Regions from separate parts of the Homo sapiens genome. Here region 1 is linked to region 2. Evidence: fine-mapped expression QTL. A gene starts in region 2. The other region holds a variant in brackets. All regions are shown on one strand. Distances are between the middles of the regions.

Region 1 (4,393 bases), 310 kb before region 2:
AGGTGTCGGTGACAGGGAGGGTATTAACACATGGGACTATGCCTTGTTTGGCATGGTCATGGGTTTGGATTGGATCTTGAAAAAGAGGAGTAGCCTTTAAAAAATTTTAAGTCATAAGAATTTACCCTTCCACCTGTGAAGTAGTTACTATGCCATTTTACAGATGATAAAACTGGTATGCTGAAAAATTAAATAACTTTCCCATAGCTATGCAGCTAGTAATGAACTGAATTTGGATTTGAATCTAGGTTCCAGAGTACGCGTGCTTAATCATTATGTCATACCACCTCTCCAAGAATACAGGCAAAAAAGTCAGGCTTGAGGGAAAAAAAGATGACTGTAATTTTTGACATGTTAAGTTTGCAATAAATATGTGGTATCCAAGTGTTTATGTCCTGTAGGCAACTGGATATATGGATGGGGAGTTTAACAAAAGGATCTGAGCTTGATATTTAGGTCCGAGAGTTAATAATGATAGGATATAAATTGAGAAATTTAAAATTTGATGGTGAAACCTAGGGAACCTCAAAAGGTATCATATGGGCAGAGGAAAAGGAGCCCATAGTGTTGACTAACAATGAACACCAAAAGAATTAGGAAGAAAAGAAGAGTAAGGTAACAATCCAAAGAAACAGTTTCAAGAAGAAAGATGTACTCAACAGAATCAAATGCTGCAGGGATGTCAAATACGTTAAAGATATAAAATTATCATTTGGGATTATGGAACTTCTATTTCCAGTATGGTGATGTAGACATGTTTTTCCATATCCTGTTTACTAAATACAGCTAAAAGCCCTGGTAGTTATACATACAACAACAATAAGAAGACTCTGAAAGGTGTAGAAGAGAAAGCAGGCCTGCTAGAGACCTTGCGCCCTAAGGAATTAAATGGAGATGAGTCCCCTGGGTTTACTTTGGGCCTCATACATTCAAGACTGGGTACTAGAGAAGTCAGCAATCCAGAATCACCAACAGGTGCAAACACACAAAAGCCCTAGAACAGCCTGTTCTCGCTAGACAAAGGACCAGGAAAGGGTAAAAGTAACAAGACAGAAAACTCTGTAACCAAACACCCAGGAAAAACTGTGGCCCCACTTTCACCACTGTCATCAAAGACCAGTTGGGGAAGCTAGACTCCCACCTTGGCTAGGCTATTACAAGGCACCCCAATCCCACACCACCCCTGCCAGGGTGGTGTCAGAAAATGCTAAGAGTGAAACTGAGATTTTAATTTTCACCGGGAGGTAATGAGACCCTCCTTCCATCGTGTTAGTGGAAACCACATGAGGAACTTAGACTTTCAATCCACCTGTGGTAATGAGGGTGATATCAGAGGAAGTCGTGTGGAGGGTTGAGACGTTCAACAATGTTCCCCCTGAGTATCAACGAAGGCTTATGGAGAACCTGGGCTTTAATCCAAGCATGGCAGTAACGAAGCAGCATCCTCCCTTCCACACAAGAACAGAGTCAGAGGAGGCCTGCTAAACAAAAGATTTAAATAAGATACGAAGTCTCATAATAAAATATTTAAAATGTTCAGGTTTCAATAAAAAATAACTCATTATACCAAGAACCAGGATGATCTCCACTTGAATGACAAAAGACAATCAACAGATACCAAAGACAAGATGGCACAGATGTTAGAATTATCTAAAAAGAATTTTAAAGCAACTGTCATAAGTGTTTCAAAGAGCAATCACAAACATGCTTGAAAAAAAAATAGAAAGTCTTAGAAAAGAAATAGAAATTCTCAGCAAAAAAGGAGCTATAAAGAAGAACCAAATGGAAATTTTAGAACTGAAAAATACAATAACAAAATTCAAAAACAATGAATGGGCTCAATCGCCCATAATGGAGAAGACAGAGGAAATAATCAGTAAACTTGAAAATAGAACAATGGAAAATACCCAATGTAAGTAATAGGCTGAAAAAATAGCCTCAGGGAC[T/C]TATGCAACTATAATAAAAGATCTAACCCCCATGTAATTGGAGTTCTTGAAGAGGAGGTTAAAAAGGATGGGACTGAAAAAGTATTTGAAGAAAAATGGCTTAAATTTCTCCAAATTTGGCAAAAGACATAAGACTACAGATTCAAGATGCTAAGTGAATCCAAAACATAATGAAATAAATCCATGCTAAGACACATTACAGTCAAACTTTTGAAAACTAAAGACAAACAATCTTGAAAGCAGCCATAGAAAAATGATGCACGTCCTATAAAATGACAGCAAATTTCTCATAAAAAAACATACAGACTGGAAGGAAATGGTACAAGAGTTTTTCAGCAGCTGAAAGAAAATAACAGCCAAATGAGAATTCTATATCCAGTGAAAATATCCTTTAGATAGGATGGCAAAATCAAGATATTGTCAGAGGAAGGAAACTAAGAAAATTTGTGGCTAGCAGACCTATTTACTTTAAAAGAATGGCTATAGGAAGTTCTAAAAGCAAAAAAGGGGATTACAGAATAAATCTTGGAAGATTAGGAAGAAAAAAAACACAGAAAGAGCAAAAATATGAGTAAATACAACAGACTTTATGTTATGGAATGAATTATGTCCCCCTGAAATTCGTATGAAGTTCTAAACCCTGATACCTCAGAATGTGACTATATTTGGATATTGGGCCTTTAAAGAAGTAATTAGGGTAAAATGAGGTAATACGGCTTTGCCTCAATTCAGTATGAGTGATGTCCTTATAAGAAGAGGGGATTTGGACACAGATATGTGCTCACACAAAGGAAAGACCATGTGAAAAGATAGCAGGAAGGTGGCCATCCATAAGCCAAGCACAGAGGCCTCAGAAGAAATGAAACCTGCCAAAACCTTACTCTTGGACTTTTAGCCTCTAGAACTGTGAGAAAATAAATTTCTGTTTTTTAAGCCACCCAGTCTGTGGTATTTTATTATGGCAGCCCTAACAAACTAATACTTTCATTCTTGTAATTTTTATATTTGATGGTTGAAGCAAAAATAAAAACACTAAAGTTGTTCCCAATGTATAAAAAAATTTAGGCAATTAAATTATAAGTGGGGGAGTGATATGGTTTGGCTCTGTGTCCCTACACAAATTTCATGTCAAATTATAATTTCCCAGTGTTGCTGGAGGTGCCTGGTGGGAGGTGATTGAATCATGGGGGCGGACTTCCCCTTTGCTGTTCTTGTGATAGAGTTCTCAGGAGATCTGGTAGTTTGAAAGTGTGTAGCACCTCCTCCTTCTCTCCCTCTCTCTCCTGCCAGCCATGTGAAGATGTGTTTGCTTCCCGTTTGCCTTTGCCATGATTGTATGTTCTCTGAGGCCTCCCCAGAACGAGAAGCCTGTACAGTCTGCAGAACCATGAGCCAATTAAACCTCTTTTCTTCATAAATTACCCAGTCTCTGGTAGTTTTTTATATAGCAGTGTGAGAATGGACTAATGCAGGGAGAGCAAAGGGACATAAAGGGAGGTAAGGTTCTTACACTTATCTCTAAATGGAAAAATGTTGACACCAGTAGAATGTGATAAGTTATGTGTGTAAAGTGGAATACAAAAAAAAATTGCTAAAATGCTATACAAAGAGTTAAAATAAAAACTAAACTGAGCTAAAAATGTTCAAGTAACCTACAAGGAAGAAAACTAGAGAACTGAAAAACGGAACAACAGAAAAATAGATGTTAAAAATAAATTCATAGACTTAGGTCCTAACCTATCAATAATTACATTAAATACAAATGGTATAAATGCACAAATTGAAAGACAAAAATTGGCAGAGTTAATTTTTTAAAAACATGACTTAACTAAATGCTATCTATAAGAAATTCACTTTAATTATAATGATATAGGTAGGATGAACATAAAAGGATGGCAAAAGATATTCCATGCAAGTGTTAATCAAAAGAAAGCAGGAGTGGCTATTACATTATGTAATAGTCTTTCTTGGTCAATCCACCTAGAAGACATAGCAATCCTAAATGTTTTTGGACAAACCAACAGAGCTGGTTTGTAAAGTAAAATTGATAGAACTGAAAGGAGAAATAGACAAATATAGAATTATAGTTGGAGATTCAATACCCTGTCTTAACAATTGATGGAACAACTAGACAGAAGATCAGCAAGGATACAGAATAACTCAATAACACCATTGCTGTGATCGAATGTTTGTCTTCCTTCCAATTCATATGTTGAAACCTAACCCCACACTGATGATATTAAGAGGTTGGGCCTTTGGAAGTAATTAGGTCATAAGAACAAAGCCCTCAAGAATGGGATTAGTGGCTCAAGGAGGTTTGTTCATGCCTTTTGTCATGTACAGACACAGCTAGAAGGCATCATCCATGAGGCAGAAAGCTAGCCCTCACCAGACACCAAATATGCTGGTGCTTTGATCATGGAGTTTCCAGCCTTGTGAGCAAAAAT
Region 2 (4,393 bases):
GGAGACTGCCTCAGGAGGGGTTGTGACAGTGGATGACAAACGCATCTCAGGCTGGTTAAAGTACATGACAAGTATGGGGGAAAGGGTGCTGGATGAAGATCTGGGCTAGTTTGGGGAGGCTAATGATCAGAGGGGTCCCTGCCAGCCCCTCAAAATGTTGCCTCAGCATACCTCAGACTCCTCAATCTGATTGGTACACCCATGGCAACACTCCAGGGTTGCTAAGAGTGTGGGCCCCAAGGCCTGAAGGATCCCATACACTGGAAGTCAACCACAGGCTCCAATGCAAGGCGAATGCCGCACAGGTTATTGTGGGTGTGTGTTGCGGTGGACGTTTGCTGAACCCTCTGCTGAGATGTGACCAATGTTGAACCCCACCCCCCCGCAAAAAAAAAGTGATATTTGCTCCCTGCTGAAAAGACACATCTTTCTATCTCCAGCCTGAACCCACATCTACAACTTCAACTGCCATTTAAGCGGGTTGGAAGCGGGAGGGCTTTTCGGATTTGAGGATTTAAGAGAAACAACAAAAAAGTGGAATAAAGTTCGTAAAGTCCGTTCACTTGGCAATCTGGCACCTCAAGGTGAGTCGTCCCACAAGTCACTCTTCCTGGTAACAGCTCCAGCTGCCCCTACCCCTCGCCCTCACCCCTACGGGGGAGGCTCGCTTTGGGGGTTCTGGAGCACTCAGGAGAGCTCCTCTCTCCTGTCCTCAGCTGCAACTTGGCTTCCAGCAGATCACAGACTCCTAAAACAAACAAACCCTGGCGGCGGCGGCGGCGGCGGCAGTGGCGGCGGCGGCGGCGGCGGCGGCGGCAGCGGCAGCAGCAACAGCAGTAGCTCCAGCACAGCTGCGCTCCATGGCGCAAGTTTCCTCCACACTTCTCAACGTGCAGGAAATCTCGCCGGCGCTGGGGCAGGACTCTGGAGGGAGGGAGAGGCCGAGCCGAACCGGCGGCAACAACGCCCCAAGAGCTGAATGGATGTGTGCGCGTCCGGCCGTGGGAAGTGTGGCTGGCAAAAGCCACCAATGGCCTCATCTCCGTTCCCACACCAGCCCCTAGCCCTGCAACCTGCCTGGGAGGGACGGCCCGCCGGTCGATAGAGGGGACAACGCTGCCAAGAGAGCTGCCAAGCCGCGATGACTGTCCCTTCAGTCCTTCACTGTCCCGCAGGGACGCAGAGGCCTCCAAGGAGAAATCCCCAACAGCCTCCACTTCCTTCGGCCCAAACTGAGGGAAGTAGCCGCCCCGACGTGGGGCAGCAAGGGCTGCCCCAGCGCCCTCGCGAGTGTGTCTGCGCGCAAGGTTCTAGCCGGGGGCCAGTTGTGCTCCCAGCTCGTGTTCCAGCCACCCTTAGGGGATGTCTGCACCTGGACTGGTGGCAAGACCCCTCCGTGCCGCTCAGAGGGTCTTTCGCTCCCAGCCCTAAGTTTCAAAGTTGGCCTGAGGGCCCCGTCCAGCGGCAGCCTTCGCACCCGCTTGTCCATTCAAAGTTAGGCGCCGTTAGGACATCAGCCGCCAGTTCTTACCTTAGACACTGTGAGCGGCTCACAGTGTTCCAGACCCCCCTTAAGGGTGAAGCCCCAGGGTGCCCCCCCTTGCAGCTGCACAGGGACGTACTGGAAGGACCCAGGCCGGTTCTCCATCCTCGGCTGGGCTCAGGCGCCGCCGGGCTCCTTTTCCGAGGGGGCTACGTTGCCTCCGCCCCCAGCAGCTCCGCCACCATCGCCCTCCAGCTCTACGCCACCCCGCACCGCCCTGCTCCGCCTACTCTCCCGGCTGGAGACGCTCAGGCAGCGAGCGAGCGCAAGGAGGAAATGACACGGAGCTGGAGAAAGGGGGAGAGAGGGGGGAAAAGGAGAAGGGAAAAAAAGAAAAGAAAAGAAAGAAGGAGAGGCGGAGGGATAGCGCGTAATGGACAAGAAAACGGAGCAATGGGGAGGGGCAGTCACTGGGACCTCGCCTATAGGATCGCTGGGGAGTGGGAGCGAGGCGAGGCCTCACATCAATTGTTACATTGTTTCATTCAAGCAGGGCCCCTCTTTGGTCCTCCTCTTTACTGCCGGGTTCCCCGCCCCTCCAGCCAGCCCAGGCGAGGGGAGGTGAAAGTCGTTAGTGTGGACGGCCCGCGTGGCTGAGTGGGCTGAAACGCTGGTTTCCTGATTAGCGCGTTCATGTTTCTCTGACTGCCTTTTTCTTCTGAAGGTCCCGAGAACGGAGACCTGGGAGGGTTAAAAGGCTGCTAATTTGTGGACCTTGCCTAGAGGGGTGGAAAGCAAAGCCAGCAGGCCAGCGGACATAGTGAGGCTGTGTGTGTAGACTGCTCTGTGTGTACGCGCTAGGTGTGTGGGGTCATTATGAAACATTGCCCCAGAGCATAGTTTAAATAAAGAAGCACTTTGAGGATGCCCCCTGCTCGGGCTCCCCCGCACCCTGGCTCAGTGTTGGTGTCTATGGCTAGCACTGTGCTTGTGTATGTTCCAGTCATCTGGAGTTCCTGGCACGGCCTTGCACTTGCCCCACCGAGATGAGCAAGCCAGCAATCAGCAAACTTTATGACTAGCAGTATTGTCTCTAAACAAACCTACAGGAAAGAGCATCCATTGATAAGCTGGCCAATTAATAATGTTGTGCCTTTGGGAAGAATCAGCTTTTAGACTGGGTCCAGAACATCTCTGCACATCTGTTCAAGCTTGACCTTGTAGTTTCTGAGCTGGGCTTTTGTAATAGACCAAACAGCCACAATAATAGTCCTGAAAAGCGAATTTGTTACTGAATCTTGTGCTGATTTCTCTGCCTTCACTTGGACAGGTTATCTTCTCTCTTTGAGGTGTTTTCTCTGGAGCCACATGCGGGCAGTGAATTTTTAAAGGGCCTCGCACTAGCGGAGAAAGTGTTGACAACTCAGTTGTGACTCAACAGGATGTTCCCACTCTGTCTCGCCTGTTCAGTTTCTTCCCCTGTTCTTGTGCAGCTTCTTCTTCATGGCCAACAAACACACTGCGGCCCCTTCCTTCACAGCCAGCTTTCTGCGGTCAAGGTTTCCACTCTCTACTTCTACTTCCTCACCTGTCACTGCCTCTTCAACGCACAGCAGCCTGCGGTGTGCTGCAGCAGGCCACTGAAATGTCTCTCAAAGTCACCCCCCTCCATCAATCCTTTTTTCTTAGCACCCCCCTGGACTGTCTGCATATATGATGCTGCCCTGACTTTTCTTTAATAAAATGGCAATTTAGGTGTTTATAGCCTGCCTTTTTAAAGTCCTTAGAGATGATGCACATGGGAAACCATCCTCGATCTTTTAGGCCTACAAACACCGTCTTGATCATGTTTATTGTTTTATATTTTCCTTATTTGAAAGCAGAAAATTTGATAAAATGGCAACTCAACTTGTTGATTCTTACTTGTGTTAACCTATGTTATAACATTCATTTGCCCTGCCCCACCTTGAAACTCAGCATTTTTTTTCTTTTTCGGATAATATTTCTATGATTGTAACTTGGTAGAATCCAGCGTGTTTCAGTCCCAGCATATCTGTAAAGTTCAGTTCACAGGATATATAGTCATCACTCAAGGACTATTAGAATTATGTGTCTAGACTAGAGGAAAGACGTTTGGAAGCAGTAGACACACATCTGAGCCCTGGCCTTGTCACTAACTAGATGGGTGACCTTGGGCAAATCACTGAGCTAACTCTTTTCAGTCTCCTGTTCTTCCTCTGTAAACTTTAGCTAATAAGCCCTGACTTTCCTACCTCCCAGGACTGTTGAGAGACTAAGATGAAATAATACATATGAAAACACTTTGGTAAGGAAAAAGTAAAAATCCTCTCACAACCTTATTATGAAAGCAAGCACTGAGCTAGTCTTTAACTAACCTATTTTCATTCCAAGCCTTACTCTACAATGATGTCTTGTTGCACTCTTCAGTTTATCCTTTTCATCATTACAGCAGAACATAAATTACCTAGCCCCTTGTACAAACAGTGCATAAGTAGTAGATATTCTGAACATAAGGTGGCTAGATTATCTTGCTTCTTTATTGATAAAAATCAGTGCTGCTAGCAGGCATCTCATTCTTCTTTGGAAGTATACAGTTAGTGGTAGCATGACTGCATAGTGGAAAGGGTACAGGGTAGAACTTGAGATGCCTAGATTCTAAGCTAGTTCTGCCATTAATTCACTGTGGATATTAAGCATGTCACCCCCACTCTCTGTAAGTTGAAGGGGTTGAGCGACTTGATTTCTTAAGTTCCTCTACAGTTTACAAATTCTGTGACTACTTCCTGGCAAGTGCCTGAACGTAGTATATGTGCAAACAAAATCTTGATAGAGTTGAACCAAGTAAAAAGAAAGCAATGGAGAACATTCGAGGGGTATATTACTCTGTGT

Alleles and levels. Positions count from the first base shown, and alleles are read on the strand shown. Sizes are in standard deviations (SD) of each study's normalised expression.
For the expression in tibial artery of the gene that starts at base 1,824 in region 2, allele T in region 1 goes with a lower level than allele C (small effect, 0.24 SD a copy in GTEx).

The links. PIP is the estimated chance that this variant, and not a neighbour inherited with it, causes the effect.
Region 1: its variant is the best candidate, but not a certain one, in a credible set for the expression of SHROOM4 in tibial artery (GTEx, PIP 0.61).

What each region holds. Positions count from the first base shown.
Region 1 is chrX:50,507,202-50,511,594 of GRCh38, forward strand. No RefSeq gene overlaps it. Among named protein-coding and RNA genes, the nearest start is that of DGKK, 39 kb to the left of the region's middle. The variant T/C (reference allele first, on the strand shown) is at 1,947.
Region 2 is chrX:50,812,371-50,816,763 of GRCh38, forward strand. It overlaps SHROOM4 (shroom family member 4), which reads right to left and starts at 1,824. Exons shown (of 9, transcript NM_020717.5): 1 at 1,532-1,824. The coding sequence starts at 1,648. RefSeq lists an enhancer at 871-1,372.